Linked DNA regions of Homo sapiens: all the other regions are linked to region 1. Evidence: fine-mapped expression QTL. A gene starts in region 1. Each other region holds a variant in brackets. All regions are shown on one strand. Distances are between the middles of the regions.

Region 1 (8,107 bases):
GTTACAGAAAGACAAATAAATACTGTATGATTCCACTCATATGAGGTACTTAGGGTCATCAGATTCATAGACTGGAAGTAGGATGTTTGTTGCCAGGGGCTGGGGGCTGAGGGGTTATGAACTATTGTTTAATGTGTACAGAGTTACAATTTGGGAAGGCAAAAAATGTTCTGGAGAGGTATAGTGGTGATGGCTGCACACAATGTGAATGTACTTAATGCCACTGAAGTATACACTTAGAAATAGTTTAATGGCATATCTTATGTCATATATATTTTACAATAAAAAACTTAGCAAAAACATTTTTTAAATAAACATATTGCATTTGCTGCCCCATTTAAAGACAACCTGATAATGAAGGATTTACAGTTGCTGACGCTGAAGGCTGAGCCATTCCCCTATTTCCTTCCTCAGGTAGCCTTCAATTTTAAGAGAAAAAATAAAAATTTGTCAATTCATTTTGGTACATCTTCCTATTCTTAGAAACTTCAGTCAAACTCATAGAAGCAGAGAGTAGAATGGTGATTGCTAGTGGGTAGGGGAATTGGGGAGATGAGATGTTCTCACCACACATACACAAATTAACTGTGTGAGGTGATAGATGTGTTTATTAGTTTGATTGTGGTAATCATTTCACAATGTATACATATATCAAAATATCATGTTGTACATATTAAATGTATACAACTTTTACTTGTCAATTATATCTCATTAATGCTGTGGGGGGGGGAAGAAACTTCAGCCTTTGATCCCAATAGAGGCTGTTTTAAACAGAAGGAGCTTTTCATTTGCCAAGGCAGTAAAATGTTTAAGTAAAATAAGTCACTGGATTTTTGCCCTTAGCATCCAGTTCTCTCCTCTGTCCTCACCTGCCAGGAAGGTTCCTGGAAGGGATGCTTCAGGTAGGGAAGCATAAAATTTTAAGGGAAAAGCATATCTAAATGTATTTAGTAATTTTCAAATCACTTCCTCTTCATCAATCATTGCAACAGCTGAAGACTGAAGTAAAGCAGTCTTTTGATTCAAATGCACAAAACTTCCTAAAGAATATGTTAGAAGCTCTACATTCCAGTTAAATTTGCTATGGGTTACCGAGCTTCTCAGATGGTAGGTACTCTTTGAAAATGAGGATGAGATTCCAATAGCTGCTGATCTATGGTGAGAATATAAGGAAAAAGCCTCAGTGCCTCAGTGGTTACCCTTTGGGGTGAGTAATGACTGGAAGGGACCACAAGAGGGCTTTCTCAGATGTGCATTACACTGTTCCTTGATCTGAGTGCTAGTTAAGTCAATGTGTTCAGTTTGTGCAAGTTCATCGGCTATGCATTTGTGATATGTGAAAAAAACTCTGTGTGATGAAGTATGTAGCTAGATGATAAAATTAGAATTAATCTTCCCAAGGACAGATATTCTGTTTGGTCACCACTGTATCCCCACTGCCTGGAACACAGTAAATATTTATTAAAGAATGAAGGAATGAATGAATGAAATCTTTTTAACGGAAAAGCTTCCTGTAGAGTTCCATTCAACAGCTCCTATGTACATACACAATATAATATCTGTAGAGTCTATTTATATTCAATCTGTTACACAGGGAAAATTACACCTGCATGAAAGCATTATTTGAAATGATTCTTGAAATTTTCTACAGCCCAGGTGTATACATTCTCAGGACCCCCTCACACTTCTGAAGCACTTACACCTAGCGATTATTGCCATCATTGTTGTATTGGCCTCACAGGAAGTACTATTTCCAAAGATGCTTTGCTTTCTATTCACTGTTACCGTAGCATTAACAAAAATGATGTGGTGTAAGGGCAATGGCCTTCAGTCCAAAGACCTCATCACTACCCTGCATTACGAGGCTGAGCCCTATTGCAGTTGTTTTGAAACTCGAAGGATTAGTTAGATACAATGTTGCCTGAGTCCTCTAACAGCTCTAAAATTCCTGGATTATGTAAAATGTTTAGCAACTTTCCTGTAATAAAGTAAAAAGAAGGTTGAAACAAGACTATGAGTCAGTAGGATTATGAATGCAAAATAAATCAATTTTTCCAATTGATCAGTTAATTATAATTCTAAAAGCTATTCCAGAAATAGCTGATTCCACTTTGGTTCAAATTTTCCTTTTTTACTAGTTAACATGGAGCATCTTCATAAATGCCCCCACATGTTTCTATATATTTAGGAAATAGAATGATTTCCTAAGATTGGATGCTAGGGTCCTATTCAAACTCAACATCCAATTTGAGGAGTAACTCATTTGCAGTCAAAACCGTGTACAAAGGACATTCAGGGCTGGGGACCTTTTCTTTAAAGAAAAAAAAGTTTTATGAAACTTTATGATGTGCCAGGAACATCTATGTAATCACAGAGGCCCTGGTTACTAAGAACATGTTGTTCAGTGACTGTAATGGGTTGGATTGTGGGTTAACAGCCACGTACTTAAAAGCTAACAGGAATAAAAGAATATGTAAAGGAGTTACATGGGAATAAAAGGCTATTCCACAATACAGTTCTCTGAATCACAATATTGCCTGCTACTGTGAGTTCTGCAGAGCTCCGAATTAAATGGGCTTGTAATGTATCTCCCTGGTTTTGAACACTCAGTGGTTTAGGTTTCCCCTAAACTGATAAGCCTCCAAAAGGCCACAGTCTCAGTCTTGGATTGTAAAGCACAAGGACAAAAACAATCCCACTCCCCTACTTCCTAGCTGTGTGGCCTTGGGAAAGTTACTTGGTTTCTCTAAGCCTTCATTTCCTAATTTTTAAAATGGGGTTGCTGTGAGAATTAAATGAGATGATACATGTAACATGCGCAGCGCCCAGCACATCTAAAGCTCTCAAAACCGGTTGGCTATCGTTACCATTAAAGCAGCAAGTATCAGTTGCCTAACTCCATTTCAGTACTTCAGCAAGTACTGCCATTATTACAATATTTTAACAGCAGGGCATGGTTAGCACAATGCAGTCCCATAAAGCAGCCCAGCCTCCGAGGTTTGTATTCAGAGGTTACTGTGTTCCTTTCCAGGACCACCCCAGGGGGAGCTCCTGGTGCACAACCAATGCTTCCTGCCTCATTACACTTGGCTCCATCTCCTCCTGCAAAAGCCTGGGGCGAGGAAGAGCCCAGTCTCTTAGACCCGCACTTCTGAGCGTTAACCATCTGGGACTCGGAAAGGAAAAGAAAGCTTTCTTCTCAGGACAGTTCTGCGCCGGTGGTAGCCAAGGGCTGGAGCCCCTGATGCGAAGAAAAGGGAAGGAGAGAGGCGGGGTGCGAAAGAAACGCCACCGCTCGGCGCCCTCCCTCGGTGCCCGCGGCGCAGGGGCCACCCGCCAGCGTACGGGGGACGAAGATGTGGCCGCGGGCGCGGGCGGGAGGGGAGGCGATCCGGGGAAGGAAGCGGCCTGTTCGCCAGCCCCGGGGCCCGGGGAGCCCTCCAGCAGCGCTTGCGGCCCTGAGGACACCGCTTTGGGAGAAATGACGACTCCCTTGCTCACCCTACTGCGACACCCCGTCCCCCTCCGCACTCTAGCAGATGCGGGCCGGGAGTAGCTGAGCTGGCCAACCGCCTGGGACCAGGATGCGGCAGCGCCCACCCGCGCGGCGTGGAGGGGGCCGGGGGCGGCGCTCGGCGCAGATGGCGCTCGCTGCGAGATGGATGCTCCAGGGCGGGTAATCACTCCTGGCTCAACACAGCATCCCGGGCGGAGCGGATGCCAGATCCCACCGCTAAGAGCCTGGGCTGGGAAAGCAATCTTTCCAGGCAGCCCCCAGCCCGGTGCGCCGGCCCCGACAAGTCCCAGCCCTCGGAGGCAGGGCGGGGCGCAGGGACTCCCGGGACCCGCACCTGTAAGGCCGACAAAGCCCCCGCAAGCGCCCCACCCCTCTGTCCTCCGTGTCTCTCTCGTTCCGCCTCGATTCCCCGAGCCCTCTCCAGGCAGCGACTGGAGAAGCGAAGTCGGCCTCGCCCCCGAACTCCGTGGTCAGCACAGGTGTACGCACTTCCGAACAAAGCCCACGCCCAGACGTGTCCGCAGGGGCCCGAACAGGCACACGCCCGTGCGCTCCCGGCCCGGCCCCCGCGCTCCTCGCCCCGCCGGCACTGTGGCGTGACGCCCCGCGCCTCCGTGTCCAAGCCCGGGAAGCCGCCGTGCCGGGCCCGCAGGCTCTCCATGCCCAACTGCCCACGAGCAAGAGCTCTGGGCAGGGCTTCCCGGAAAGCGTGGGGTGCGGGCGCGGAGCAGAAGTTGGCCACAGGCTGGAGGGGGTGGTGGGTGCCGGCGCTGCTGGATTTCAGCTGTGCCTTCACCCAAGCGCAGGTCCCCCTGCTCCCTCTCGGCGCCCGCGGGAGTGTCGGGGGCCTGCAGGGGAGAAGGGAGTTGGAGATCTGCTTTGCCCCTCCTGCAGCGCTGCCAGCCCGGTGAGCGCTCGGCTGAACCCCGCGGCGGTGTCCAAGTGACAACGCAGCAGCCTCGCGCGTCCTCCTCCGCTCCAGCCGTCACCCCCGAGCAGGACCCAGTGTCACCGCCAGACGCGCAAGGAGCTACTTACGTTCTCGCGCCGCGCCCTCCGCTCAGCTCTGGCGCGACTGCCCAGGACCCTGGACCGCCGGTGTCCTCCGTTCTCGACGAAGCTATCCCCTCTGGCTGCTCCAGCCAGGCGGCCCCTGCGCCGTCCCCCGCGCCCGCGCGTCTGAGGCTCGGACTGCGGCGCGCGTCCGCCAGCGACCCTGGCGAAGCGAGGCTGGCCCCGCGCCGGCGCGCGCCCCCGCCGCTCCCGCCCTCTCCGCTCCCCCTCCCCGCGCCGTGCTTTTGCCCCTCCCGGCTCTCCTTAGCGTCCTCCCGTCCCCCTCCCCCGCACTCCCTGCGGGCGTCCTCCGCCTCCTCCCCTCCTGGCCAACCCCCTCTTGCCCTGCTGCTGCGACGGCAGCGAATGGGCTCCAGCCGCCGGCGCCTCGAGGGACTGGGTGGCCCCTCACCTGAGCGGCCGCCCCACCGCCAACCTCCGTCAGCCTGCGAGCGCGTGTGGCGGCGGGGGTGGGGGTGCGGGGACGGAGGGCGGGAGTGTTCCGGGGCTAGGATGGCTGGGATTTAGCTACAAAAGATGTTCCAGAAAATGGGTAGTTTTTGAATGCCACTCTCATGGGTTTAGCTTTCTGTGGGAGGTCTGTGGTCTTCTAGTTTTTTCTTTTTTAAAAAGCACTTTCTTCGAAATTCATCAGTTGGGGTGGTTGAGATTGGGTGAGTGGTTTTGGGGGTTTTGTTTTGTTTTTGCAACCGTTCTTTCCAAACACTCCCCGCCGCCCCCCACCACCGCAGAAAAAAGAGCTTTTAGCATAAGGCGGATGCTATCTATCCGCGGTAGAAACTGGGTCTTCTGGTCCCAAGGAATAGGGTTAGTTCGGATTTGCTTATTTACAAATGGGGGAGTATTATGGAGATTTTTTTTTTTTTTTTTTGGCAATGTAAATCGAGAATTAAGATTTTCCAACTGTATAGTATTTGAGTAAACACACTGCTTGCTGCATAGTTCAGGCTCCGAAGCGCACGTCTCCACTCTATCGTGGATGGTGTTCAGGATCCTTAGCCTGACCCTTGGGTCCTCCGTAATCTACTCCGGTCTGCACACAAATTACTTGTCTGCTGGGTATCACCCGACTTGACCACTTACAGCAGGCTCCAGCGCTTAGTGAGCTCAGCGGAGCCTTGATTCCTTCAGTTCTCTAATTCAGGAAAACATTTTCTGAGCTCCTCACCACCCCACCCCACCTCACCACCTCCTCCACCCCCAGCCTCCAAGGTGCTGGGGCAAGATTCAGGAATGAAAAAGAAACAGGTTCATCCTTCAAGGTCTTGACTACCCCAGTGGTCTGTTCTAACTTCAATTTGAACTTGCCCCGTCAGCTCACAGCATCTGCATGCAAGTGAGCAGCCTTCTTTTCCTTCTCCTTCTACTGCCATCCTCTCCTCCTTCTCCAGCCAAATGTGCTCTGGCCTCACAGAGCCTCCCTCGGTTCCTGAACCAGCATGATATCTGGCTGCTGGGTCATTGCACAAGTTGTTTCCACAGTCCCATCAGTGGTTCTTCTGACTCTAGTCCTTACCCAACTGCCATTCAGGTGGTACCTTGCACCTCTCAACTAATTGTCCAAATTTTCCTCTAAAATACCTTCCCCCCCGCAAAAAAAAAGATTCCATGATCCCCCTACTTGAAAGTCTGGGCTGGTGGGCTGGTTCTCTATTGCCTACAAAGTAAATTCCACATCTCCTGGTGTGCCTCTTTACAATCTGCTCCTAACTTATCTCTCCATTTTCCATAACTCTAAGCCTCTGCATGTGAGGTTCCTCCTAGCTAGAATATTGGTCCATCTCTTTTTCATTTGGCAAACTCTTGTTCATCCTTCAGAGCCTTACTTGGTTGTTACCTCCTCTGTAAGGACTATTATAATAGTGCTGGTCACCTTTTAATGATCTGTTTGCATGTCTGACTCCATAAAATTTCACTTCTTTGAGGACAATTTGTCTTATTTATTTTTGTGTAACCACATTTCTCATCAATACAAATGAAGCCACAGATAACCATAATCAACTCTCACTGCCCCATCATTTTGCCCTGTGTAAAGGACTTGAGGCCCCTCCGTTCCTTCCCCACTGCAGTAATTGCTGAGAATCCTGGGGTTGTCTTGCCTGTCCTTCCCATGTCCTTCTACTTCGTACTCTGGTTTTCCAAGATTGCCCCTCACCCCGGCCACTGAGAAACATTGATTTCTGGTCCACATTATTTTCCAGTGAATGCCACAGGGCAAACCTGTCAAGTGGGAAAATGACACCCTACTCTCTTCAGTTCTTGCCCTGGTTCTGTGTAGTAATTTATCCCCCGGGCACTGAAGCAACATTGCTTGTGTCTTCCTGTGTTACAATCTCATAAAGACCCTCTTTAAACAGCTCCTTGAACTTCTGCTTAGAATTGTTCTTTCTCTTCAGGCTCCAGTCCTGGTCTATGAAGCCAGGTTGAGGCAGACGATATTTGGTCCTGGTGAAGTCCAGGTTAGTCCTGATGCCTGGGAGACTACTTAGGCTATTGGGGGTTGCTGAAAGAATAAGGACATGAATAGAATCTCTCTCTTTTTTTTTTATGTGAGTGATGATTTCTCAGGTATAGTTTCCCTTACCTTTACAGGTAGAGTAACAATACTTAATACATAAGGTTATTGTAAGAAAGCACTGGACAGTATCTAGGACATAATAGGTGCTCAGCAAATTCTAGTTTAAGCAGTAATTATTTGATAAGATGTCTGTAATGTAAATACATGCTTGAATAAAAAGTACAAAGCCAGAAGAGAAAAAGCTCTGGAGAAGATAGGAACCACAGTGATAGTACAAAACAAAAACTAAAATTAAGTAATTTGGGGCTGGGTACGGTGGCTCATGCCTGTAATCTCAGCACTTTGGGAGGCTGAGGTGGGTGGATCACCTGAGGTCAGAGTTCGAGACCAGCCTGGCCAACATGGTGAAACCCTGTCTCTACTAAAAATACAAGAGTTAGCCACACGTGGTGGTGTGTGCCTGTAATCCCAGCTACTGGGGAGGCTGAGGCAGGAGAATCACTTGAACCCAGGAGGCAGAGGTTGCAGTGAACCGAGATCACACCACTACACTTCAGCCTGGGCGGCAGAGTGAGACTCCGTCTCAAAAAACAGAAAGTAATTTTGATACTACATAATAATTGTAATAATATAAAATTATTATATAGTTCTGATTTCCAGCTTATTACTTCAACTGCACTGCAGCTCTACATTGCTGGGGATTCATCTCCTGAGGGAATGAGCAACAGGAAGAACAAACTGAGGCTTCAAGAGGAGCTGAAATGAAGGGAGTATGGGAGGTGGGGATAGAAAAATGTTCTACAATTAGAAAGATGGCGGTGTGGGCAAATAGACTTTCTAATGCAGTCTGTTTGATCTGCTTGGTGATGCATGAGGCAGTCTGATTTGGCTGCACTTTGCTGGTGATACCCACAACTTGCCTCCTTACCCTAACTGCTGCTATCCCTTTCCCATCCCTAAGCCTTATCCTCTCCCTATTACCAAGCCTCACTCCATCT
Region 2 (8,107 bases), 200 kb before region 1:
GCTACCAGAGACTGCCAAATCCCTGGCTGTGGCGTCCAGGCGATTGTTAATTATTGTTCTAAAGAATAAAAGTCAATAGTTTTTCAATCCTTGGCATAAAACATAAGAGAATATCTCGCAACCTTAGTTAGGTAAATTTCTTAGCTATGACACCAAAAGAAAAAAACTGATAAACTTAACATAATCAAAATTAAAAACAGTTGCTCTTCAAAAGAAACCAACAAGAAAATGCAAAGACAAGCCACAGACTATTTACAAATCATATATCTAATAAAGGACTTGTATCTACAACATGTAGAAAAACTAAGAAGACAAAACAAGTCAATAAAAAGATGGACAAAAATTTCATTAGAGATTTCTCCAAAGAAGATATACAAATATCTAACAAGCACATGAAAAGATGCTCAATATCATTTATCATTAAGGAAATGCAAATTGAAACCACAATGCGATACTACCACACACCCACTTGAATGGCTGTATTCAAAAAGACTGATGATGTCCAGTGTTGGTGAGGCTGTGGAGAACCTGAAATCCTCACATATTGCTATGGAAACATAAAAACATATAGCCATTCTGAAAAAACAATTTTGCTTTTTTTTTTTTTTTGAGATGGAACTAGCTCTGTTGCCCAGGCTGGAGTATAATAGCGTGATCTCAGCTAAGGGCAACCTCTGTCTCCTGGGCTCAAACCATCCTCCCACCTCAGCCTCCCAAGTAGGTGGGACCACAGGCATATGTTCTACCATACCCACCTAGTTTTTTTTATTACTTGTAGAGACCAGGTTTCACTATATTACCCAGACTGGTCTCGAATTCCTGAGCTTTAGTAATCCACCCACCTGGACCTCCCAAGTGCTTGGATTAAAGGCATGAGCCACCATGCCCAACCTGGCAATTTCTTAAAAGTTAAACACTCACTTACCATACAATCCAGCAATTCTACTCTTTTACCTAAGAGTAATGAAAACATATAACCACACAAAGACTTGTACGCAAATGTATATAGCAGCATTATTTATAATAATGAAAAATTGTAAACAGATCCAATGCCCATTAACGGATGAAAGAATAAGCAAAATGTGGTATATTCATATAATGGAAAAGTATTCAGCAATAACAAAGAATGAACTACTGATATATGCAACAACATGCGGCATGGATGAAACCTCAAAACTATGCTGAGTGAGCCTCTCCCTCTCCCTCTCCCCCTCCCCCCCCTGCCCCTCCCACTTTCCACGGTCTCCCTCTGATGCGGAGCAGAGGCTGGACTGTACTGCCGCCATCTCGGCTCACTGCAAACTCCCTGCCTGATTCTCCTGCCTCAGCCTGCCGAGTGCCTGGGATTGCAGGTGTGCGCCGCCACGCCTGACTCGTTTTTGTATTTTTTGGTGGAGACGGGGTTTCGCCGTGTTGGCTGGGCTGGTCTCCAGCTCCTGACCGCGAGTGATCTGCCCACCTGGGCCTCCCGAGGTGCCGGGATTGCAGACGGAGTCTCGCTCACTCAGTGCTCAATGTTGCCCAGGCTGGAGTGCAGTGGCGTGATCTCGGCTCGCTACAACCTCCACCTCCCAGCAGCCTGCCTTGGCCTCCCAAAGTGCCGAGATTGCAGCCTCTGCCCGGCCGCCACCCCGTCTGGGAAGTGAGGAGCGTCTCTGCCTGGCTGCCCATCGTCTGGGATGTGAGGAGCGTCTCTGCCCGGCCGCCCATCGTCTGAGATGTGGGGAGCGCCTCTACCCCGCTGCCCCATCTGGGATGTGAGGAGCGCCTCTGCCCGGCCACGACCCCGTCTGGGATCTGAGGAGTGTCTCTGCCCGACCGCCACCCCGTCTGGGAGGTGAGGAGCGTCTCTGCCGGGCTGCCCCCTCTGAGAAGTGAGGAGCCCCTCCGCCCGGCAGCCGCCCCGTCTGGGAAGTGAGGAGCGTCTCCGCCCGGCAGCCGCCCCGTCCGGGAGGTGGGGGGCAGCCCCCACCCAGCCAGCCGCCCTGTCCGGGAGGGAGGTGGGGGGCAGCCCCCGCCCGGCCAGCTGCCCCGTCCGGGAGGGAGGTGGGGGCAGCCCCCGCCCGGCCAGCCACCCCGTCCGGGAGGTGGGGGGCGCCTCTGCCCGGCCGCCCCTTCTGGGAAGTGAGGAGCCCCTCTGCCCGGCCGCCACCCCGTCTGGGAGGTGTACCCAACAGCTCATTGAGAACGGGCCATGATGACGGTGGTGGTTTTGTTGAATAGAAAAGGGGGAAATGTGGGGAAAAGAAAGAGAGATCAGATTGTTACTGTGTCTGTGTAGAAAGAAGTAGACATAGGAGACTCCATTTTGTTCTGTACTAAGAAAAATTCTTCTGCCTTGGGATGCTGTTAATCTATAACCTTACCCCCAACCCCGTGCTCTCTGAAACATGTGCTGTGTCCACTCAGGGTTAAATGGATTAAGGGCGGTGCAAGATGTGCTTTGTTAAACAGATGCTTGAAGGCAGCATGCTCGTTAAGAGTCATCACCACTCCCTAATCTCAAGTACCCAGGGACACAAACACTGCGGAAGGCCGCAGGGTCCTCTGCCTAGGAAAACCAGAGACCCTTGTTCACATGTTTATCTGCTGACCTTCCCTCCACTATTGTCCTATGACCCTGCCAAATCCCCCTCTCCGAGAAACACCCAAGAATGATCAATAAATACTAAAAACAAACAACAACAAAAAAAACAACTATGCTGAGTAAAAGGAGCCAGACCCAAAAGACCATCTATGATTCTACTTATATGAAATCTTTAGAAATGCAAAAGTATAGCCAGCATGGTGGTTCATACCTGTAATCCCAGCACCTTGGGAGGCCAAGGCGGGCGGATTACTTGAGATCAGGAGTTTGAGACCAGCCTGGCCAACACGGCAGAACCCAGTCTCTACTAAAAATACAGCCAGGTGTGGTAGTGCACGCCTATAATCCCAGTTACTCTGGTGGCTAAGGCACAAGAATCACTTGAACCCGGGAGGTGGAGGTTGCAGTGAGCCAAGATGATGCCACTGAACTCCAGCCTGGGTGGCAAAGGAAGACTGTCGAAAAAAAAAAAAAAGAAAAAGAAAAAGAAAAAGAAAAGAAGGAAGGGAGGGAGGGAGGGAAAGAAGAAAGAAGGAAGGAAGGAAAGAAGGAAGGAAGGAAAAGAAAAGAAAAGAAGAGAAAGGAAGGAAGGAAGAAAAGGCAAAACTATAGAATCAGAGAACAGATTAGTGGCTGCTGGGGCCTGGGGTAGGAGAGGAGACTGACTATAAACAGGCAGGAGGGAACTTTGTCAGTCGACAGTCATGTTCTGTAGCTAGATTGGGATGAAGTTTGCTGTTAAAAATGCACTAAAACTCACCAAACTACACTTAAGATGGGTAGATTTTGTGGTATATAAGTTATACTTCAAAAAACTATAAATAAGAAAGTTAACTGGAACATCCTGTGCTTTCCAAATCAAGACACCTTTCAGAGGATACATTCATAGCCTTTGCCCCGGGTAAGTGCTTTCAAATATAATACTCTAGTCCCAGTATAAATTCAATATACCTGTTTCTAAACACAGAGTATTAAGCGATACTGAGAGAAATGGCAGATATATTAGCATATGAATCTAAATGTATTATTGAAAGAGTGGTTTTAAGAGAAGTGTAGACAGCAGCCTACTCTAATGAAAATAAATGTCAATGAAAATAAGCTACATTTGTCATTTTCATGAAAAAATTATTTCTATCATCATCTGCAAATCAATTTCCTTAATAAGGGTTCGTGACAATTTTCAGGATTTCTTGAAATGATTTTTATGATATATTAAGACTCATTTCTACATAACCTTGATTTCAAATCAAAATTGCTTTTAACTTCACATTCACAGGTATGTGAGCTATTAAACCTAAGTCAGGCAGAGAGGATCAGTTTCATCAAGCGTCTCAGATGAGAGCGTTCACACCCTTCTCTTCTTCACGTGCCACACTGCCTCCTCTTTGTCTCCACTTCACCGGGCATGCTGAGGATTATGAACACTTTTCAAAGTCAACGCTACTGACTTCTATCTTCCTAAGCAAAAATAAGCCACCAAAAGTAGAGATTTATAAAAGAAAGCAAGCTCAGACTTAGTTTCTGAGAAGTCCATTTCCTCACACAGAGGAGTCTGGGTCTCTGCCTGTTGGAGGAGGTGGCTGTCTGTGTGCTCTGA[T/C]GGAAATTCTGCCAGTTTCCTTCAGCAGTTAACACCCTCAGCTTCAGGGCCGAAACATGCTCCAGGTTGTCCTTTGGCTGAAAGCCCGCTAAAATGGCAATAATTCCCTCTGACCACAACAGCCTTGCGTGTGGTGCTTTCTCTTAATTATTCCTCCTGCCCCTGGTCCTTCAGCTCCACATTATTCCCACTCTCCAAAAATTCTATTCTTCACTTCCTTCTCTTTCCAGCTTAGGTCCCATGGGCCACCCTTCATTTTTCTGACCAGCCCTCTCAACTCCTTTTCCTCCTTCTTTTTACACCATACATTCTTGTCTAGGGAAAGACCCCAATTCAGAACAGTTTTGCCTATAAGGACATGAAGCCCAAATTTCCCATGTGACAGACCCACGTGGGGGAAAATGATAAAGTAAAAAGAGGATAGGCTGTTGAGTCAGAGCCTAGCTTAAATCCTGGTGCTGTCACCTACAAGCTGTGTTGCATTGGTTATGTTCAACAAGCTCTGTGTGCCTTAGTTTCCTCACCTGTAAAACGGGGCTAATTTACCTACCTCCGGGGCTGTTGAGATAAATATGGAATGAGCATAGCGATGTGGCAGGAGCTTAGTGGACCCTTAGTAAATGGTGACAAAAGCCTAACAAACAAGCACTCTGATGTCCATGTTCACTGTTGTTCTCTCGACCCAGTCTGCTTTCTCCACTTTCTACTTGGTTCCTATCCTCCTTGTGGCCTGGATAACACCTACTTATTCCTGGAGACTCCACTAAAATGTCAACCATTAGAACTGCACTGTCAAAAACAGCAGCCATTAGTCAAATGTGGCTACTTACATTCAAATTAAGATTAATGAATATTAAAAATCCAGTTCCTCAGTCACACTGTCCACAATTTGAGTGCCCAACAGCCACATGGGGCTGGCTAGTGGCTACTGTGTTGGGACAACACAGCGTGGAACATTTTCATCATCACAGAAAATTCTATTGGACAGAGTTTCTCTAGAGGAAAATGTCTTTGTTAACCCTCTCCTAAAGAACTCGTGTACTTTTATAAGCATACTCATCACTTCCTAAAATGAGTGTTGATTCTTTTACTCCATAAATTGTGAACTTCTTGAAGTACCACTTAAATCCATACAAATTTGCTAAATGAACTGTTGAATAATTGGTTAACAAGCCTTTTTAAAAATCAAAGTCAAGTAACAACAGGTGCTGGTGAGGCTGTGGAGAAACAGGAACGCTCTGACACTATTGATGGGAATGTAAATTAGTTCAACCATTGTGCAAGACAGTGTGGTGGTTCCTCAAAGACCTAGAACCAGAAATACCATTTGACCCAGCAATCCCATTATTGGGTATATACCTGAAGAAATAGAAATCATTCTATTATAAAGATACATGCATGTGTATGTTTGTTGCAGCACTATTCACAATAGCAAGGAGATGGAATCAACCCAAATGTCCATCAGTGATAGATCGGATAAAGAAAATGTGGTACATATAGACAATGGAATACTATGCAGCCATAAAAAGGAATGAGATAATGTCCTTTGCAGGGACATGGATGGAGCTGGAAGCCATTATCCTCAGTAAACTACTGCAGGAACAGAAAACCAAACACCACATGTTCTCACTTATAAGTGGGAGCTGAACAATGAGAACACATGGACACAGGGAGAGGAACAACACACACTGGGGCCTGTCGGCGGGTGGAGGGAGAGAGAGCATCAGGATGAATAGCTATTGCATGCAGGGCTTAATACCAAGGTGTTGGGTTGATAAGTGCAGCAAACCACCATGGCACACACTTACCTATGTAACAAACCTGCACATCCTTCACATGTACCGCAGAACTTAAAATAAAATTTGAATTTTTAAAAAAGCTTTTTGAAAAATAAACCTCTTAATTGTCTGGAGGCTCAGACAATTTCCATGAGGAAGAGTGCCTGATATCTTTGCTTTCAGAACCTGGTCCTGAGAGATTTTGTCTAGTTTTGCTTCCTATTCCGTTTCTCAAACCATTTCTAATCCTTAACCCATTCAGGCAAGCGGAGCCCTCCACCACGTGGCCAGAATTTCCTGACGTCCAAGAAAGGGCATTAAACAATATGGCTTCTGAGAAAACATCTAATATCAGATAAGTCATTGAATATAAAAGTTCATCTCTGTACTCACAGTGCCAGAGTCAGTGCCTGGCCCACAGTAAACACCTAAAGAGTATTTATTGAAAAAAATGAATGGGTTGTTATTTTATCAGGGACTATACTCTTAGGGAGGAATGAGGTACAAGGGGAGAGATGCTGGAAAGGATGGAGAGCCAATATGGAGGAGTACTGAGCTGCCGAGTGTGACTGATTGCTCAATCCACAGACCACACTCCCAAGAAGGTGGATAAATGGGAGCTCAGAACCAGCCCTGTGATGGAGTGGGGAAAGGGAGAAGAACTTACTCCCGGGATGTGCTTGGTCTAAGATTCACCCCCTTGCTCCTCTGGATTGTGCATTCCAGAGCGTGGGCATTAGTGGAGTCTGCAGTGATGTCAACATGGGAGTGTTGGGTGGGAGATGAGAGGGGTACTGGTGTGAAATTGGCTGGGGCCCACACAGAGCTGGAACAAGAGATGGGGAGGCCGAGGCTCTGGAGTGGTGCATAAACAGGTGTTGGGCACAATGTATATAAATTAGCCTTTTAAATTATCTACCATCATGGGCAGGACTTGAGACTGGAGGATAGGCCATTTGGGGAAGGTTTATGTGGGGTGTTCTCATATTCAATTCCTGGCAAGGTTCTAGGTACATTGGAAGTATCAATAAGAATCAACTGGTTGATTGCATAGAGGCATCTAAGCAGGCCAGTATGATACTAGGTACTAGGTTCCTAAAGGGGGACACTGATGGAGGGGAAGTGAATGTGGGGACATGAGGAGAAATGGTGGACAGAAAGGGGCTGAAAACAAACTTAATCCACTTTATAATTTTGTCTGGGTCCAAGCTGACTTGGAAATATTCCCTATGTCCTCTCCTTTGTTCTAAAAGCACCCAGAACCCCTTCCGAAGTTTCTTCTTTAATAAGATTTCCTAATCATTATAAAACCCACTTAAGACCCAGGTAAAGGTTGTGCTCCTAAGGATCAATAAACTCAACTTTCCACTAGATTTTCCTGAAGCCCAAGCACTGCTCTCTTTGTTTTCAGCATATATCACCACCGCCTAAGTTAGGTCTGTTGTCCAGTAAGTAGATAGTATAGCTCTCTTTTGCTCCACACATTGTCTACAGCTGACAGGTATCATTTGGAGAATAAAATTAGCAAATGTTATTGCTGTGTCTATTTATATTTTATTAATCAACAGATTTTTAGCAAATTTTGGTTTTATCTCCATGAATCATAGACTTGAAAGGCCAAAGACACTCCAGGGAATTCTTTATTTTAGCATCTTCTTTCCAGGCAAAAAGACAGGACATCCCCATTAGAGTTGTTGTATTGGACCCCTCGTGTGCACCACTTCAAAGTCCTCTTGGGTTGTTCCTCTTATTTCAGCCACAGCTGTAGACACCTGTTTTCCTGGAGGCTTTGAGCAGCTTGGCACAGGTGCTCTAGGACAGTGGCCTCACCTTGACCCTCATAGGGATCTCTTGCTTCCTGCCCTAGCCATCTCTAATCTTGGTTAATAGTTCTAGAAATCCACTCTGCACTCAAGCACAACCCAGCAGTGCAGGGGAGTTAGTCTTGTGAGGGCCAGTCTAGACCAGTGAAGATCTGGAGTCAGTGGATAAAAGCACTCCATTTCATCCCCTGGCAGACAGTTCTGAAACACTTCATAAACCCTTTCACCAGTCCACTGGGATCAACCAGCCAATGCAATGACACAGGCTTCTGTTGGCTCCTCCCCTCACTTTCTTCCACTCCCCCTTTCTGCATTTCTGCTC
Region 3 (8,107 bases), 250 kb before region 1:
TGCCATATTCTTTGGGGCAAGGTTTATATCTTATCCATCCCTTATAGCTCCAAGTACTGTGCATTGCACATAGTAGATGCTCAATATATTTTTGCTGATTGAACAGAAAATAACAGCAGTCATTAATTTAATTTGCCATGTCTTTAATAAAATGAGAGCTTACCCAGCACATTTACAAATGCGTTTGCCAGTAAATATCCATATTCATTAGAGGCATTGCACTGATAGACTGCACTTGATCTTTCTTGAACATTTGAAAAAATAATGGTATCGCCATCTATTTTTCTGCTGGGGTCATCAGGGGCAACTGTTTGGATGTAAAAATAGAAAGTATTTATTCCTATTTGCTTAAAAGATGTATATTAAGCTTGTAAAGTCAGTAGGACATAAATAAAGACTGCTCTAAGTACATGCAGTAAGAATAAGACTAGAATTTAGGCAGAAACCAGAACATTTTCCTTCTCAGAATTGAGTTATATATTAGCAAGGGTATGTGCTCAATATTCATTTAGTCTTAAGTCGATTGATTCTGTAACACTAAGTATTATTTATTTTTATTTTTATTTTTTTAAAGACCTTTCCATTCACTTGCCCCTTGTATCTTTTTTTTAATTATACTTTAAGTTTTAGGGTACATGTGCACAATGTGCAGGTTTGTTACATATGTATACATGTGCCATGTTGAACACCAAGTATTATTTTGAGAGATGCAGAAAAAAAACTCTTACAAGTTTAGGTGAAAATTGCATTACAAATTCAGGAAAACATTGCCGTGTTCAAGAGATTGTGGTTATTTAGGAGAAAAAAAGTTAACGATCAAGAGGAAATAGCAAAAGCTAGTAAAAAATATAGAAACACTCCAGCTTGTTCAAACCTGTTCCTTTTAGGAGCCTCTTCTTGACATAAATAAATCAACAAATACATAAACACTACGGGGCTAATAACCAAATGTGAAAATATTTAATTTTCTGCTGTGGATATTCTTGAAGCTGAAGTATAAATAAATTGTGTAAATTCCTCTTGAAGACAATGTTTTCAGCTAAATCTCTCAAGTATTAAAACGTTAGGAACAGGCTTGATCCTTACTGAAGTGGAATAGAACTGGCTGGGTAACACAGTATGTGAGGATTTAGTCCCGGGCATGCCCAGCAATTTGGAACTTCTGTGAGATTGGAGATGAATTCCTTTCTGTGAACGATACACTTTAGGCTTTGAGCTTATATTGCTTTAGAAGTACACTAAGAGGGATTTAGGTCTCTGTCTCAGCACGATGATCAAAATCAAAACTAAATAACAGCACCTTTTCTCTTAAACTGCTCCTGCAACTTGAAGCATTTAAGAAGACTTTATGTTCTTTCTAAGCACCATTTCTTTTTCCTTGGTGAAAGGAAAAGGATGTGCATCTAAGACACACTCATCACTGTATTTAGACTCTTTTATCACTTTTAAAATAAAAAAAAATTTGTTTCATCTGTGGTTTATTAACCCACTGTAATAAAAATCAACCAAACCATAGTACATCCTTGTTTTATGACCCAAACTCGAAGTATTTGGCTCCCTCATTCTGTAATAGTTTTCCACGGTTGCTGTAACAACTTACCACAAATGTAGTGGCTTAGAACAACACAAATTTACTGTCATACAGTTCTGTAGGTTAGAAGTCTGACATGGGTCACACTGCTCTAAAACCAATGCGTGAGCAGAGCTGCGTCGCTTTCTGAAGGTTCTAGGGGAGAATCCATGTCCTTGCCTTTTCCAGCCTCTGGAGGCTGCCCACATTCCTTGGCCCATGGTCCTCTTCCTCCATTTTCAAAGCTGTCGATGTTGCATCTCTCTGATCATTCTTCCATAGTCACCTTTCTTTCCAACCAAAGCCGGAAAAGGCACTCTGCTTTTGGGGGCTCATGTAATTAAATTGGGCCCAAATTAGATAGTCCAGGATAACCTCCCCATCTCAAGGCCCTTAACCTTAATCACATGTGCAAATTCCCTTTTGCCATGTAAGGTGACATATTCATAGTTTCTAGGGATTGGGATGTAGACATCATGGCGGGGTGGGGTAGAAGGAGGGATTATTCTGTCTACCACATACTGTATCACATTTATAGCCTAAAAGTCTTTTAGATGTTTTAGACTAGAATATTTTAAAAATTCGCCATACATTTAAGTTCAGAATAAGTTTTTAGCATCCAAGGATTATTAAAACTCTAACTTACAAGTTACTCCTCATGGACTGATTAACGTCTTCATTCCCAAGGAAAAATGTAACAAAAAAGCAGTTGTTCAACACTCTGATTACCATCAGTAACTCATTTATGAAATCATCTTAGATACTCCAGGTTGTTCAACTAGTTATGTGGGGGTGTCGAGATACTTTGAATTGACTTCTTAGCTTACATCTCCTATTTATGACTCTAATAATTTCAAAATTGCCTTAAGGAACATGTTCTTCCAAATCAAAGACAAATACAAGTCATAATTCCTTCAACAGGGTATATAGATTCGTTGATAAAAGACAGCAGAGGATGGATATGACACACTGGCCTAGAAAGGGAACTGTAGCTGTGGCAGGCAGCCATGGATCCTGAAAACACAGTGTACCTTAGGGCAGCCATGGACCCTGAAAACACAGTGTACCTTAGGGCAGCCATGGACCCTGAAAATGCAGTGTAACTTAGGGCAGCCCATGTGTCCCAGATCCCAAGTCTTGTATGACTGGGGCCTGACTCACACAGTCTCAGTGATGCTCACCTACTGCCTCATCAAGGGGTGCTGGAACACAAAGCAGCATTTCTGGAGACTTGTTCTCTGTCAGTGATTCTTAGCACTTCTGGTCATTATATAAAAAAGATACTTGCACACACATGTTGATAGCAGCACAATTCGCAATTGCAAAAATATGGAACCAGCCCAAATGCCATCAATCAATGAGTGGATAAAGAAATACACACACACACACACACACACACACACACACACACACACACACACACTATGAAATACTACTCAGCCATACAAAGAAATGAAATAATGGCATTCACAGCAACCTAGATGGAATTGGAGATCATTATTCTAAGTGAAGTAACTCAGGAATGGAAAACCAAACATTATATGTTCTCACTCATAAGTGGGAGCTAAGCTATGAGGACACAAAGGCATAAGAATGATATATTGAACTTTGGGGTCTCAAAGGAAAGTGTGGGGGGCAGCGAGGCATAAAAGACTATATATTGGGTACAGTGTGTACACTGCTCGGGTGGCCGGTGCACCAAAATCTCAGAACTTATTCATGTAACCAAATGCCACCTGTTGCCCAAAAATCTATGGAAATAAAAAATAATACAAGAATAAAGTAGAGAAACAAACTAAATTTTTAAGGTCGGTAAAAAAAAAAAAAAAAGAAAAAGATTCTTAGCACTTCTGGACCCAGCACTTGGGCTCTCAGTGCTGGGACTCTTCAGGGCACTCTCGGTGCCCACCATGTGCCCACCCTGACCGCATCTCTGTGGATGTTCCAGGCAGTGGAATAGAGTGGCTGTGTATTTTAGACTGTGATGAATCCCAGGCAGAGCTCTGGGCCGAATCTCTCTGGATGGGTGGCAGACTACATAAGAGTTCCTCAAATTCCTTAAATGTATTGAGTTTTTAAAAGTTACACCACCACGCGATATTTAATGGCTAAAGGGCTCTAGTTCTGAAGATCTGTTGCACAATGTGAAAATGCTTAACACTACTGAACTGTACACTTAAAATGGTTAAGATGGTAAATTTTGTTATGTGTTTTTACCACAATAATAATAATAATGTTACACGACCATGAACTTGGAGGGCAAAGCTCAACAATGTCAGTAGGACAATTTTCCCCAAGTGGAGACTCATCAGTCACAAACAAACCATGTCAGAAAGCTTTTCTGTTGCTCTCAGTTGCACTTTTCTTTGCTATCAACTCTTTGGGAAGGTATTTTTTTACCTGAAAGGCATCTGACTGTATCTGCCTTATATATGCTAAATAGAGCAGTCTTCAAATATTTATTTTTGGCAAGGTATTTAGGAACAAAATAAACCCTTTAGGTAATAACAATGAGTAAGCAGACCTCTCTCCATGGGAGTTTTCCTTAAGTACTTGTTTAAAAAATGCAAACAAACCCAGGAACTGTCACGGTGACATATGGAGGCTCGGTTGGTAGCTGGACACAGAGTAAAATCACTAATGTAGAGACATTTGGAGCCTTTGGATGGGCTGGCTAGTGGGTAGAGTAACTCTCTAGCATGCAAATCCAAATTATCCAGAGGAATAATCATTAATTCT[A/G]GGAATAACCAACTTCATCTGCTGTCAATAAACACTGGAGAAAGAAATTTAAAAGCACAGAATCCCTACAAATAACTTAAAGCCACAAAGATAAGGTCCAGAACTGGGGTGATGGCCTTCAGAAAATACTTATAACCCAACTCTCCTGATGTTGGTAGGTAAAAATATAAACACTTTCAACATATAGATAATGAGAATAATAATAATAATCATGCCATCTTACATGAACAGAGTACGATCAATCTTTAAAATGCTTTTACATTTACTGCATAATTTCATTTTAAAAAGAACTTTGTGAAACAGGCTAATCATATAGTATTTTATGCATTTTGGAGATGAGAGACTACAAATGGCAGCATGTACTGGTTTGTTCAAATGAGGTTACTGCTCAGGTTTTCTCAGTTAGTCAACTTTGTAAACATTTCCTGGAACGTGAACATTTGGGCATAATGTAGAACACATTTCTGGGAGAAGAGTTAAATTTCCCTCTTCATTTACTTATTCCATCCCTACAAGAGGATGCCACTGAGCCCCTTAGTTTTGTGAAAAGGAAGAAGGGAGGATGCCTTGATGAAATCCCAGGAATATCCTGGACCAGTCCTCCATTCTCCTGGTGCTTATCTTACATTCCTGGCTTTCAACATCTTTCATTGTGAGAAAAATATGTCACAGTGCCAGGAAGAGGTCTTCTGCCCATTCTCATTCTCTTAGTTCTTTTCCCTCCTCATCCCTGAGAGGACAGGGGCCTTTTAACACAATAACGGTGTGATCTTATCCACGTTTCATGCAGAAGAGTCTGACAGACCTAATACAACGCACGCTGGAAACTATCAAGGATCTGCAAGTGTTAGACTCTCCTGCAGAGATAGGAATCACAGTGGCCACAGCCTTGGGCACCACCACCAGAATGGCACAGGCTCTCCAGTGGGGAAGACCAAGAGGAAGAAAAAGGAACTCAAAAACACCCCCCTCAGTGTGGCTTTGAAGTCCTGAAAAGCAACCTCCTAGGGTAGAGCAGGGAAATGCTTTGCCCCATCCTGCCAATAGCAAGTTCATTTTCTTTCTGGTCCTGGGTTCTATTTTCACACCCTCCCATTACACAATAAAATTAAAGCTCTCTTTCAGCACTAGTTCTCTGCAGCTGTGTTCTTTTATCTGACTTCTGTAGATTGTTTTAAAACTATTTTAGGTGGTTTTGGGAAATTTCCACATTTATTTAATACAGCCTGTAATTTTTGCTTCAAGGAAAGCTTTAAGTAATCTGGCCAGTCCTGGGGATGGGGGAAGGGTAAAGCTTTAGGAGACAATGAAATAAAAGCCCAGACACTTTTGGAGTTAATTTTTCCAGTTTTTTTTTTTTAAAACAACAGCTTTCAGGTCTTAAATGCAGTCACAGATCAATAACATTGCATTTTGCTAAAAGAACCCTTCTTACCATTCCCCTCCCTGAACCAGCTTCTCCTTTTACAGTATTTATGTGCACTCGGCAGCCAGAGCCTGCAGAGGCGAAAGGAGACAGTCAGTGTCCTTAGGTGCTCGCCTGCAAGTCAGGAGTGGGGAGGCTGTGTACCTGGCAGTATGGTCCCCTGACTGTATCTCTGTTGTGTGGCACAGGAGACAAACTTCAGGCACCTGGAGGGGACACTGCACAGCCCCTGACAACAGTAGTTCAGAAGCACAGCTGTTTCCTGTGCCTCACCCGCAGCAGCTGGTCCACCTGCAATTTCTGCAGTCTCTTGGATAGAAAGTGCTGTCAGCAAGCCAGCTTGTGCTCCCAGCTCACTTCTGGCGCCTATGCTAGGACCCCATGATGAAGGCAAGGAGTCTTCATTGTGCTAATTCAGCCCTGTCACACATGGTGGCAGACTGTGCCCTCAGTTCCTACCTTCACCTCTCTGCATCTCCCTGTCATCCTTCCCCCGTCTCCCAGCCGTGCTAGATGTGGGGTGCACAAGTCAGCAAACTCCAGATGGGAAGCAAGCACTGGTGCTCCGTTTCCAGGATGGTCCCTAACCCTCAAAGGCAATTCCCTTCAGGGGCCTCTAAATTCATGGGACAATTACCAAGAAGGGGATGAAAAAGAGAGCGGCACAGGGCTCCTTAAATGTCTATTAATGTTTTGGATAGTTTCTGCACCCCCCTCATTCTCTCATTATTTTGGATCAGGGGAGATCAACACACAGTGGGGGCATGCAGGGTTCACTTTGAACTTAGCTGTTGAAGACTTAGCATCCACCCATGTGGCCACTCAGCAGAAGCTGCAGATGGGCCAGCTGCAGAAGGCCAGGGGCAGGGCACAGCTGTACCTTTGCAGGGTCATCGTGCAGAAAGCTGTGCAGAGGCCCCGCTGGCTCATCATCTTTTAGTTATGAGATGTCCAAATGGTAATCCACTTTCAGCTTGGCCACCAGATGTCGAGAAAGACCCCTTCCAGGGAAGCTTCACAGTACCTTGGTATAAACATGCAGCACCTGCTACCAGCACCACGGAGCGGCCTGGTGGTGCCGGGCTCCTTGCTTTGCTGCCACACCATGTGGTATTCCTCTCCCTGCACGTCCACTAGAGTGACTGCTCTGAGGCACACCAGAGGGTGAGCGACCCTGGATCTATAGGAGCTATGGAATTCCAGCCTTGTCTTCTCAGTCTCCTTTTTTCTGTCTCAGGGGGCCTTAAAGAAGACTTTTGGGATGGAAGAGATGAGCTGATCTGATTTGAGACATTTAGTCCTAACTCTTTCTTCTCTACCTACTCAGACAATTTAGGGTTACAAGAGGAACTACTCTTTCTGCTATTACTACTCTGTACCCCCAAAGCAGGCCTTTTATGGTTGATTCTCCCCACAAAAATGTAATTTAAAAGGGGAGTGTTATTATGTTATGAGTGTATTTTCAAAGCTGTTAAGATGACTGGATTTACAAGGTTCCCTCAGAGGCACTGCATACTCTGGTACTATGGTCTGAATATTTGTGTCCCTCCAAAATTCATGTTGAAACCTAACTCCAAGGTTAAGAGGTGGGGTCTCTGGGAGGTGATCAGGAAATGAGGGTTTCCCCCTCATGAATGAGATTGGTGCTGTTCTAAAGGTCTTGAGGGAGCCCGTATGCTCCTTCTACCATGTGAGGACACATAGCAGCATCTGTGAGGAACAGGCCATCACCAGACATGAAATCTGCTGGTTCTTTGATCTTGGACTTTCCAGCCTCCAGAACTGTGAGCAATATATTTCTGTTGTTTATAAATTACCCAGTCTAAGGCATTTTGTTATAGCAGCAGGAATGGACTAAGATGGCTGGTTTGGAAGGACAACAAGCTGAGCAAATCAAGAAGAAAAATCAGCTTCATTATTTAATCCTCCCCTGCTTATGTCATCCACCCACATCTCAATTTTCCTTGCATAGTATTGCACTCTGGCTGCCAAGCTTGAGGGTTTATCCCCTAGCTTCCCCATTTTCCCTGCTGAAGGGCTAGATGGATGGTTCCTTCCACTTGTCAGTTTCACTGAGTCTAGATCTCAGGGACACTTTTAAACTTCCATAAATGGACACAAAAACTCTGAGCTGCAAAACATGGTGCAAAAGTATCAAGCATGTATCATCATTTATTGCCATTTTGTATGCATTCCTGAGAAAATCATACATTGTACCAGCTAATTTTTTGTTGATTTTTTTGTAGAAGCAGGATTTTGCCCTGTTGCCCAGGCTGGTCTCTAACTCCTGTACTCAAGAAATCCGCCCGCCATAGCCTCTGAAAGTGCTGGGATTACAGGCTCACATGAGCCACCATAAAACTTTTTTAGTT
Region 4 (8,107 bases), 240 kb before region 1:
ACATTGGTAATTTCCAGAGTCTGCTTCTGAAACATGAATGATCTGCAAGGTTTTCTCAAAGTTCTTATAAACTGTCCTGTTTTTGGGTAGCATTCCATCTTCCTTTGCCCAGTAAATAATTGGGGTAGGCCTGATAGGATAAATAAATAATGATGTTACAAAAAAGGAATCCACCTATGACTACTTTTGAGGATGAATTTTCATGCAACTTTGTAACAAATCTTTATTAAAAAATCATAAGAAATACATAGATATTTTAATTAGCACCACACTTTTATAAATAATGCTCACAGTTTTACGTTTTCACATAATCAGAACTATACTAATTGATGGCACACCATAAACTTCGATGTCAATGATACAGTATGAATGCCAGCATGAGTTGCTTTACTGATGGGGCCTAATTATTTTTTTCAACGTTGTGACTAATAAGGAACTCTTGGAAATTTTTACATGAAGCTACTATGTTAATCAAAAGAATTACTATTATATTAATGATACTGAATTATAATTTTTCATCAGCTGGGATTAAACATGTACAGAGAAAAACTCATAAACATATCTATGACCATAAACCTTTGTATACATTTCCATATCAAATGGAATAATTTTCCTATTTTACAGCAGTCTATCTGATGATGTTAACTAAGTAATAAGGGAAAGAGCTTTTTTTCCTTAGTTTCATTATTAGTGACATTTAAAAATATTATTACACTAATTAAGAATAGATCAAACTTAGGTATTACTCATACCATTTGTCACCCAATGTTTTGTTTTGTTTTTTTTTTTGAGATGGAGTCTTGCTCTGTCACCCAGGCTGGAGTGCAGTGGCACGATCTGAGCTCACTGCAAGCTCCGCCTCCCAGGTTCACGCCATTCTCCTGCCTCAGCCTCCCGAGTAGCTGGGACTACAGGTGCCCGCCACCATGCCTAGCTAATTTTTTGTATTTTTAGTAGAGATGGGGTTTCATTGTTTTAGTCAGTATGGTCTCGATCTCCTGATCTTGTGATCCACCCGCCTCAGCCTCCCAAAGTGCTGGGATTATAGGCGTGAGCCACCGCGCCTGGTCCCAACTGTGTTTTTTATTGTCATGGAATATGGAGACAGATGAAAAGTCAGAATATAGGCTTGGAGTTAGAAGATCTTTAGAATTCCAACCCTGTCCCTGGATTTCTGATCTTTTTGAGGCTTAGTTTCCTTAGTTGCCTTAATAGGGATAATAATGCTTGACTTGAACTAATGACTTTAGAAAGTTTTCATGAAGGTAAAATAAAAATCCATTCAACACAAAAATTTCCTAAGTACTGAACTATACACCAAGCACTGAGCTGTGTGTTGGGAAGATGATGAAGAAAATATGGTCCAGGCCCTCAGGAAGATAACAATATTTGTCAATAGAAATGCAAGTGACTCTGAATAAGAACAGCTCAGCCCAGAAGGGATCATCATGGCAGATGGGAGGCAGAACTACATTGCAGCTCTGATGCGGATGGACAGAGCAGCATGTGGAGGCTTGCATCGTGAATTTTAGCTCCAGAATAACTGCAAGAACAAACCTGCTGAAAGGACTCACAGACTCTCTGAAGGAATTGGACTGCTCCTGCAGGACCCGGGAGATATCCCAAATACTGTGAGTGCCCAAACTGCAGAAGTGAAAAACTGGTTTGTGGGAGAAGTTTCTGACTTTACCTGGAGCTGAGTCAATTTAGAGAGCTGAGTGAAATACAGGGGTAGAGGAAGCAGCAGGAAAGGCCTTGGGAGCTCGCTGGGTCCCCAAGCAGGCCATTCCTGCCTGGCACCACAGAGATCCTTCAGGAGGGCAGCCAGAGGTGTGGGGAAAATGCCACAGGGAGAAGGAAGTCTCCAGCTGAACTTTATAACAATTTGAACCAGACGAGAAACCTCCTGGCCAGAACTCGGGAAAGGGCATGAATCCAGCATGCAGACTCCATAGGCTGGGGAAGAACTAAGCCCTTTTCTTTTGCCGCTGGGAGGTGGATAGTCTGGGGCAAGTTCTCAAGCCCCGCTCACCCACTGCCTGGAAACAGACTTGGGGCTGTTAGGGTAGGCACTGTGGGAGTGAGACTGGCCTTTTGGTTTGCGTGGGAGCTGGGTGAGGCCTGTGACTGCTGGATTTCCCTCGCTTCCCCAACAACCTGCATGACTCAGCAGAGGGACAACTTGCATGACTCAGCAGAGGCAGCCTTAATCCTCCTAGGTACACAACTCCATTGATCTGGGAACCTCACCCCCTCCCCCACAGCAGCCACAGCAAGACCCAAAGAGAGTCTGAGCTCAGACACACCTAGCCCTACCCCCACCTGAGGGGCCTTCTCTACCAACTCTGGTAGCTGAAGACAAAGGGCATATAATCTTGGGAGTTCTAGTGCTCCACTCACCACCAGTTCCTCTCCATACTACCAGAACTGATACTCTCTGGAAAGCACCTGGCAGGAGGCCAACCAGCACAAAAATAGAACATTAAACCACCAAACCTAAGAACCCTCACAGAGTCCATTTCAACCCCCTGCCACCTCCACCAGAACAGGTGCTGGTATCTATGGTGGAGAGGCCGATGGTTCACATCACAGGACTCTGTGCAAACAAACTCCAATAGCAGCCTGGAGATGGGTAGACTTGCCAGGTGGCTAGACCCAGAAGAGAGATAACAATCACTGCAGCTTGGCTCATAGGAAGCCACATCCATAGGAAAACGGGGAGAGTACTACATCAAGGGAAAACCCCATGGGACAAAAGAATCTGAACAACAGACTTCAGCCCTAGACCTTCCCTCTGACAGAATCTACCCAAATGAGAAGGAACCAGAAAACCAACTCTGGTAATATGACTAAACAAGGATTTTTAACACCCACCAAAGAATCACACTAGCTCACCAGCAATGGATCCAAACCAAGAAGAAATCCCTGATTTACCTGAAAAAGAATTCAGAAGGTTAGTTATTAAGCTTATCAGAGAGGCACCAGAGAAAGGCAAAGCCCAATGTAAGGAAATCCAAAAAACAATACAAGAAGCAAAGGGAGAAATAGTCTAGGAAATAGACACTATAAAGAAAAAACAATCAAAACTTCAGGAAACATTGGACACACTTATAGAAATGCAAAATGCTCTGAAAAATCTCAGCAATAGAACTGAACAAGTAGAAGAGAGAAATTAAGAGCTTGAAGACAAAGTCTTTCAATGAACCCAATCCAACAAATACAAAGAGAAAAGAATAGGAAAATATGAACAAAGCCTCCAAGAAGTCTGGGATTATGTTAAATGACCAAACCTAAGAATACTCAGTGTTCCTGAGGAATAAGAGAAATCTAAAAGTTTGGAAAACACATTTGGAGGAATAATCGAGGAAAACTTTTCTGGCCTTGCTAGGGACCTAGACATTCAAATACAGGAAGCACAAAGAACACCTGGAAAACTCATCTCAAAAAGATGTCCAGGCACATTGTCATCAGGTTATCCAAAGTTAAGATGACGGAAATAATCTAAAGAGCTGTGAGACAAAAGCATGAGGTAACCTATAAAGGAACACCTATCAGATTAACAGCAGAGTTCTCAGCAGAAATCCTACAAGCTAGAAGGGATTGGGGCCCTATCTTCAGCCTCCACAAACAAAACAATTATCAGTCAAGAATTTTGTATCCAGCGAAACTAAGCATCATATTTGAAGGAAAGATACAGTCTTTTTCAGACAAACAAATGCTGAGAGAATTTGCCATTACCAAACCACCACTACAAGAACTGCTAAAAGGAGTTCTAAATCTTAAAACAAATCCTGGAAACACATCAAAACAGAACCTCTTTAAAGCATAAATCACACAGGACCTATAAAACAAAAATATAATTCAAAAAGCAAAAACAAAAAATAAAAAACCCAAGGTACACAGGCAACAAATAGCACAATGAATGCAAGGGTATCTCACATCTCAATATTAACATTGAATGTAAATGGCCTGAGTGCTCCACTTAAAAGATACAGAACTGCAGAATGGATAAGAACTCACCACCAACTATCTGCTGCCTTCAGGAGACTCACCTAACACATAAGGACTCACATAAACTTAAAATAAAGGAGTGGAAAAAGTTATTTCATGCAAATGGACACCAAAAGCAAGCAGGGGTAGCTATTTTTGTATCAGACAAAACAAACTTTAAAGCAACAGCAGTTAAAAGAGACAAAGAAGGACATTATATAATGGTAAAAGGCCTTGTCGAACAGGAAAATATCACAATCCTAAACATATATACACCTAACAATGGAGCTCCTAAATTTATAAAACAATTACTAATAGTCCTGAGAGTTTTTAGCATGAAGGGCTGTTGAATTTTGTCGAAGGCCTTTTCTGCATCTATTAAGATGATCATGTGGTTTTTGTCACTGGTTCTCTTTATGTGATAGATTATGTTTATTGATTTGCATATGTTGAACCAGCCTTGCATCCCAGGGATGAAGCCGA[A/G]TTGATTGTGGTGGATAAGCTTTTTGATGTGCTGCTGGATTCAGTTTGCCAGTATTTTATTGAGGATTTTTGCATCAATGTTCATCAGGGATATTGGCCTGAAATTTTCTACTTTCGTTGTGTCTCTGCCAGGTTTTGGTATCAGGATGATGCTGGCCTCACAAAATGAGTTAGGGAGGATACCCTCTTTTTCTGTTGCTTGGAATAGCTTCAGAAGGAATGGTACCAGCTCCTTTTTGTACCTCTGGTAGAATTTGGCTGTAAATCCATCTGGTCCTGGGCTTTTTTTGGTTGGTAGGCTATTAATTACTGCCTCAATTTCAGAACTTCTTATTGGTCTATTCAGGGATTTGACTTCTTCCTAGTTTAGTCTTGGGAGGGTGAATGTGTCCAGGAATTTATCCATCTCTTCTAGATTTTCTAGTTTATTTGCGTAGAGGTGTTTATAGTATTCTCTATACTCTATATGGTGGTAGTTTGTATTTCTGTGGGATCAGTGGTGATATCCCTTTTATCATTTTTTATTGTGTCTATTTGACTCTTCTCTCTTTCTTCTTTATTAGTCTGGCTAGTGGTCTATTTTGTTAATCTTTTCAAAAAACCAGCTCCTGGATTTATTGATTTTTTGAAGGGTTTTTCATGTCTCTATCGCCTTTAGTTCTGCTCTGATCTTAGTTATTTCTTGTTTTCTGCTAGCTTTTGAATTTGTTTCGGTTGCTTCTCTAGTTCTTTTAATTGTGATGTTAGGGTATCAAATTTAGATCTTTCCCACTTTGTCCTGTAGACATTAGTGTATAAATTTCCCTCTAAACACTGCTTTAGCTGTACATTGTGATCCTGGTACATTGTGTCTTTGTTCTCATTGGTTTCAAAGAACTTATTTATTTCTGCCTTAATTTCGTTATTTACCCAGTAGTCACTCAGGAGCAGGTTGATCAGTTTCCATGTAGTTGTGTGGTTTTGAATGAGTTTCTCAATCCTGAGTTCTAATTTGATTGCAGTGTGGTCTGACAGACTGTTATGATTTCTGTTCTTCTGCATTTGGTGAGGAGTGTTTTACTTCCAATTATGTGGTCAATTTTAGAATAAGTGTGATGTGGTGCTGGAAAGAATGTATATTCTGTTGATTTGGGGTGGAGAGTTCTGTAGATGTCTATCAGGTCTGCTTGGTCCAGAGCTGAGTTCAAGTCCTAAATATCCCTGTTAATTTTCTGTCTCACTGATCTGTCTAATATTGACAGCAGGGTGTTAAAGTGTCCCACTATTTTTTTTTTTTTTTTTTGAGATGGAGTCTTGCTCTGTCACCCAGGCTGGAGTGCAGTGGTGCGATCTCGGCTCACTGCAAGCTCCGCATCCTGGGTTCACGCCATTCTCCTGCCTCAGCCTCCCAAGTAGCTGGGACTACAGGTGCCTGCCACCATGCCTAGCTAATTTTTTGTATTTTTTTTAGTACAGATGGGGTTTCACCATGTTAGCCAGGATGGTCTCGATCTCCTGACCTCATGATCCACCCGCCTCAGCCTCCCAAAGTGCTGGGATTACAAGCATGAGCCACCGCGCCTGGCCATCTCCCACTATTTTTGTGTGGGAGTCTAAGTGTCTTTGTATGTCTCTAAGAACTTGCTTTATGAATCTGGGTGCTTCTGTATTGGCTCCATATATTTTTGGGATAGTTAGCTCTTCTTGTTGCATTGATCCCTTTACCATTATGTAATACCCTTGTCTTTTTTGATCTTTGCTGGTTTAAAGTCTGTTTTATCAGACTACAACTGCAACCCCTGCCTTTTTTTTTTTTTTTTGCTTTTCATTTGCTTGGTAAATATTCCTCCATCCCTTTATTTTGAGCCTATGTGTGTATTTGCACATGAGGCTGGTCTCCTGAATACAGCACACTGATGGGTCTTGATTCGTTATCCAATTTGCCAGCCTGCGTCTTTTAATTTGGGCATTTAGCCCTTTACATTTAAGGTTAATATTGTTATGTGTGAATTTGATCCTGTCATTATGATGCTAGCTGGTTATTCTGCGCGTTAGTTGATGCAGTTTCTTCATAGTGTCGATGGTGTTTACAATTCGTTATGTTTTTGCAGTGGCTGGTTCTGGTTTTTCCTTTCCATATTTAGTGCTTCCTTCAGGAGATCTTGTAAGGCAGGCCTGGTGGTGACAAAACCCCTCAGGATTTGCTTGTCTGTAAAGGATTTTTATTTCTCCTTTACTTACGAAGCTTAGTTTGGCTGGATATGAAATTCTGGGTTGAAAATTCTTTTCTTTAAGAATGTTGAATATTGGCCCCCACTTTCTTCTGGCTTGTAGGGTTTCTGCCAAAAGATCCGCTGTTAGTCTGATGGGCTTTCCTTTGTGGAGAACCCAACCTTTCTCTCTGGTTGTCCTTAACATTTTTTCCTTCATTGCAACCTTGGTGAATCTGATGATTATTTGTCTTGGGGTTGCTCTTCTTGAGGAGTATCTTTGTGGTGTTCTCTGTATTTCCTGAATTTGAATGTTGGCCTCTCTTGCTAGGTTGGGGAAGTTCTCCTGGATAATATCCTGAAAAGTGTTTTCCAACTTGGTTCCATTCTCCCTGTCACTTTCAGGTACACCAATCAAACGTAGGTTTGGTCTTTTCACATAGTCCCATATTTCTTGGAGACTTCATTCATTCTTTTTCATTCTTTTTTCTCTAATCTTGTCTTCACACTTTATTTCATTAAGTTGATCTTCTATCTCTGTTATCCTTTCTTCCACTTGTTTGATTCAGCTATCAATACTTGTGTATGCGTCACGAAGTTCTCGTGCTGTGTTTTTCAGCTCCATCCGGTCATTTATGTTCTTCTCTAAACTGGTTATTCTAATTAGCAATTCCTCTAACCTTTTTTCAAGGTTCTTAGCTTCCTTGCATTGGGTTAGAATAAGCTCCTTTAGCTCAGAGGAGTTTACTATTACCCACCTTCTGAAGCCCACTTCTGTCAATTCGTCAAACTCATTTTCTGTCCAGTTTTGTTCCCTTGCTGGTGAGTAGTTGTGATCCTTTGGAGGAGAAGAGGCATTCTCGTTTTTGGAACTTTCAGACCTTTTGTACTGGTTTTTCCTCATCTTTGTGGATTTATCTACCTTTGGTCTTTGATGTTGGTGACCCCTTCATATGGGTTTTTTGTGTGGACGCCCTTTTTGTTGATGCTGATGCTATTTCTTTCTGTTTGTTAGTTTTTGTTCTAACAGTCAGGGCCCTCTGCTGCAGGTCTGCTGGAGTTTGCTGGAGGTCCACTCCAGACACTGTTTGCTTGGGTATCACCAGCGAAGGCTGCAGAACAGCAAAGGTTGCTGCCTGTTCCCTCCTCTGGATGCTTCATCCCAGAAGGGCACCTGCCAGATGTCAGCCGGAGCTCTCCTGTATGAGGTGTCTGTCGACCCCTGCTGGGAGGTGTCTCCCAGTCAGGAGGCACGGGGGTCAGGGACCCACTTGAGGAGGCAGTCTCTCCCTTAGCAGAGCTCGAGCACTGTGCTGGGAGATCTGCTGCTCTTTTCAGAGCCAGCAGCAGGAATGTTTAAATCTGCTGAAGCTGCGCCCACAGCTGCCCCTTCCCCCAGGTGCTCTGTCCCAGAGAGATGGGACTTTGATCTATAAGCCTTTGAC

Which allele goes with the higher level. Positions count from the first base shown, and alleles are read on the strand shown. Sizes are in standard deviations (SD) of each study's normalised expression. Not every link is listed here.
For the expression in cerebellar hemisphere of the gene that starts at base 4,749 in region 1, G is the high allele of the variant in region 3 and A is the other (moderate effect, 0.44 SD a copy in GTEx).
For the expression in cerebellum of the gene that starts at base 4,749 in region 1, A is the low allele of the variant in region 4 and G is the other (moderate effect, 0.44 SD a copy in GTEx).

The links. PIP is the estimated chance that this variant, and not a neighbour inherited with it, causes the effect. A credible set is the group of variants that fine-mapping cannot tell apart.
Region 2: its variant is the best candidate, but not a certain one, in a credible set for the expression of NRCAM in nasal epithelium (TOPMed, PIP 0.87).
Region 3: its variant is the best candidate, but not a certain one, in a credible set for the expression of NRCAM in cerebellar hemisphere (GTEx, PIP 0.67).
Region 4: its variant is the best candidate, but not a certain one, in a credible set for the expression of NRCAM in cerebellum (GTEx, PIP 0.63).

Annotation. Positions count from the first base shown.
Region 1 is chr7:108,451,688-108,459,794 of GRCh38, forward strand. NRCAM (neuronal cell adhesion molecule) reads right to left here and starts at 4,749. Exons shown (of 33, transcript NM_001037132.4): 1 at 4,556-4,749.
Region 2 is chr7:108,253,958-108,262,064 of GRCh38, forward strand. All of the region lies in intron 3 of NRCAM (neuronal cell adhesion molecule), which reads right to left. Among named protein-coding and RNA genes, the nearest start is that of LAMB4, 130 kb to the left of the region's middle. The variant T/C (reference allele first, on the strand shown) is at 4,185.
Region 3 is chr7:108,197,793-108,205,899 of GRCh38, forward strand. NRCAM (neuronal cell adhesion molecule) reads right to left here. Exons shown (of 33, transcript NM_001037132.4): 14 at 164-307. Among named protein-coding and RNA genes, the nearest start is that of LAMB4, 71 kb to the left of the region's middle. The variant A/G (reference allele first, on the strand shown) is at 4,310.
Region 4 is chr7:108,209,476-108,217,582 of GRCh38, forward strand. It overlaps NRCAM (neuronal cell adhesion molecule), which reads right to left. Exons shown (of 33, transcript NM_001037132.4): 12 at 1-130. Among named protein-coding and RNA genes, the nearest start is that of LAMB4, 83 kb to the left of the region's middle. RefSeq lists a silencer at 963-1,120 and enhancers at 1,626-2,825, 1,966-2,660, 2,032-2,231, 2,352-2,561. The variant A/G (reference allele first, on the strand shown) is at 4,474.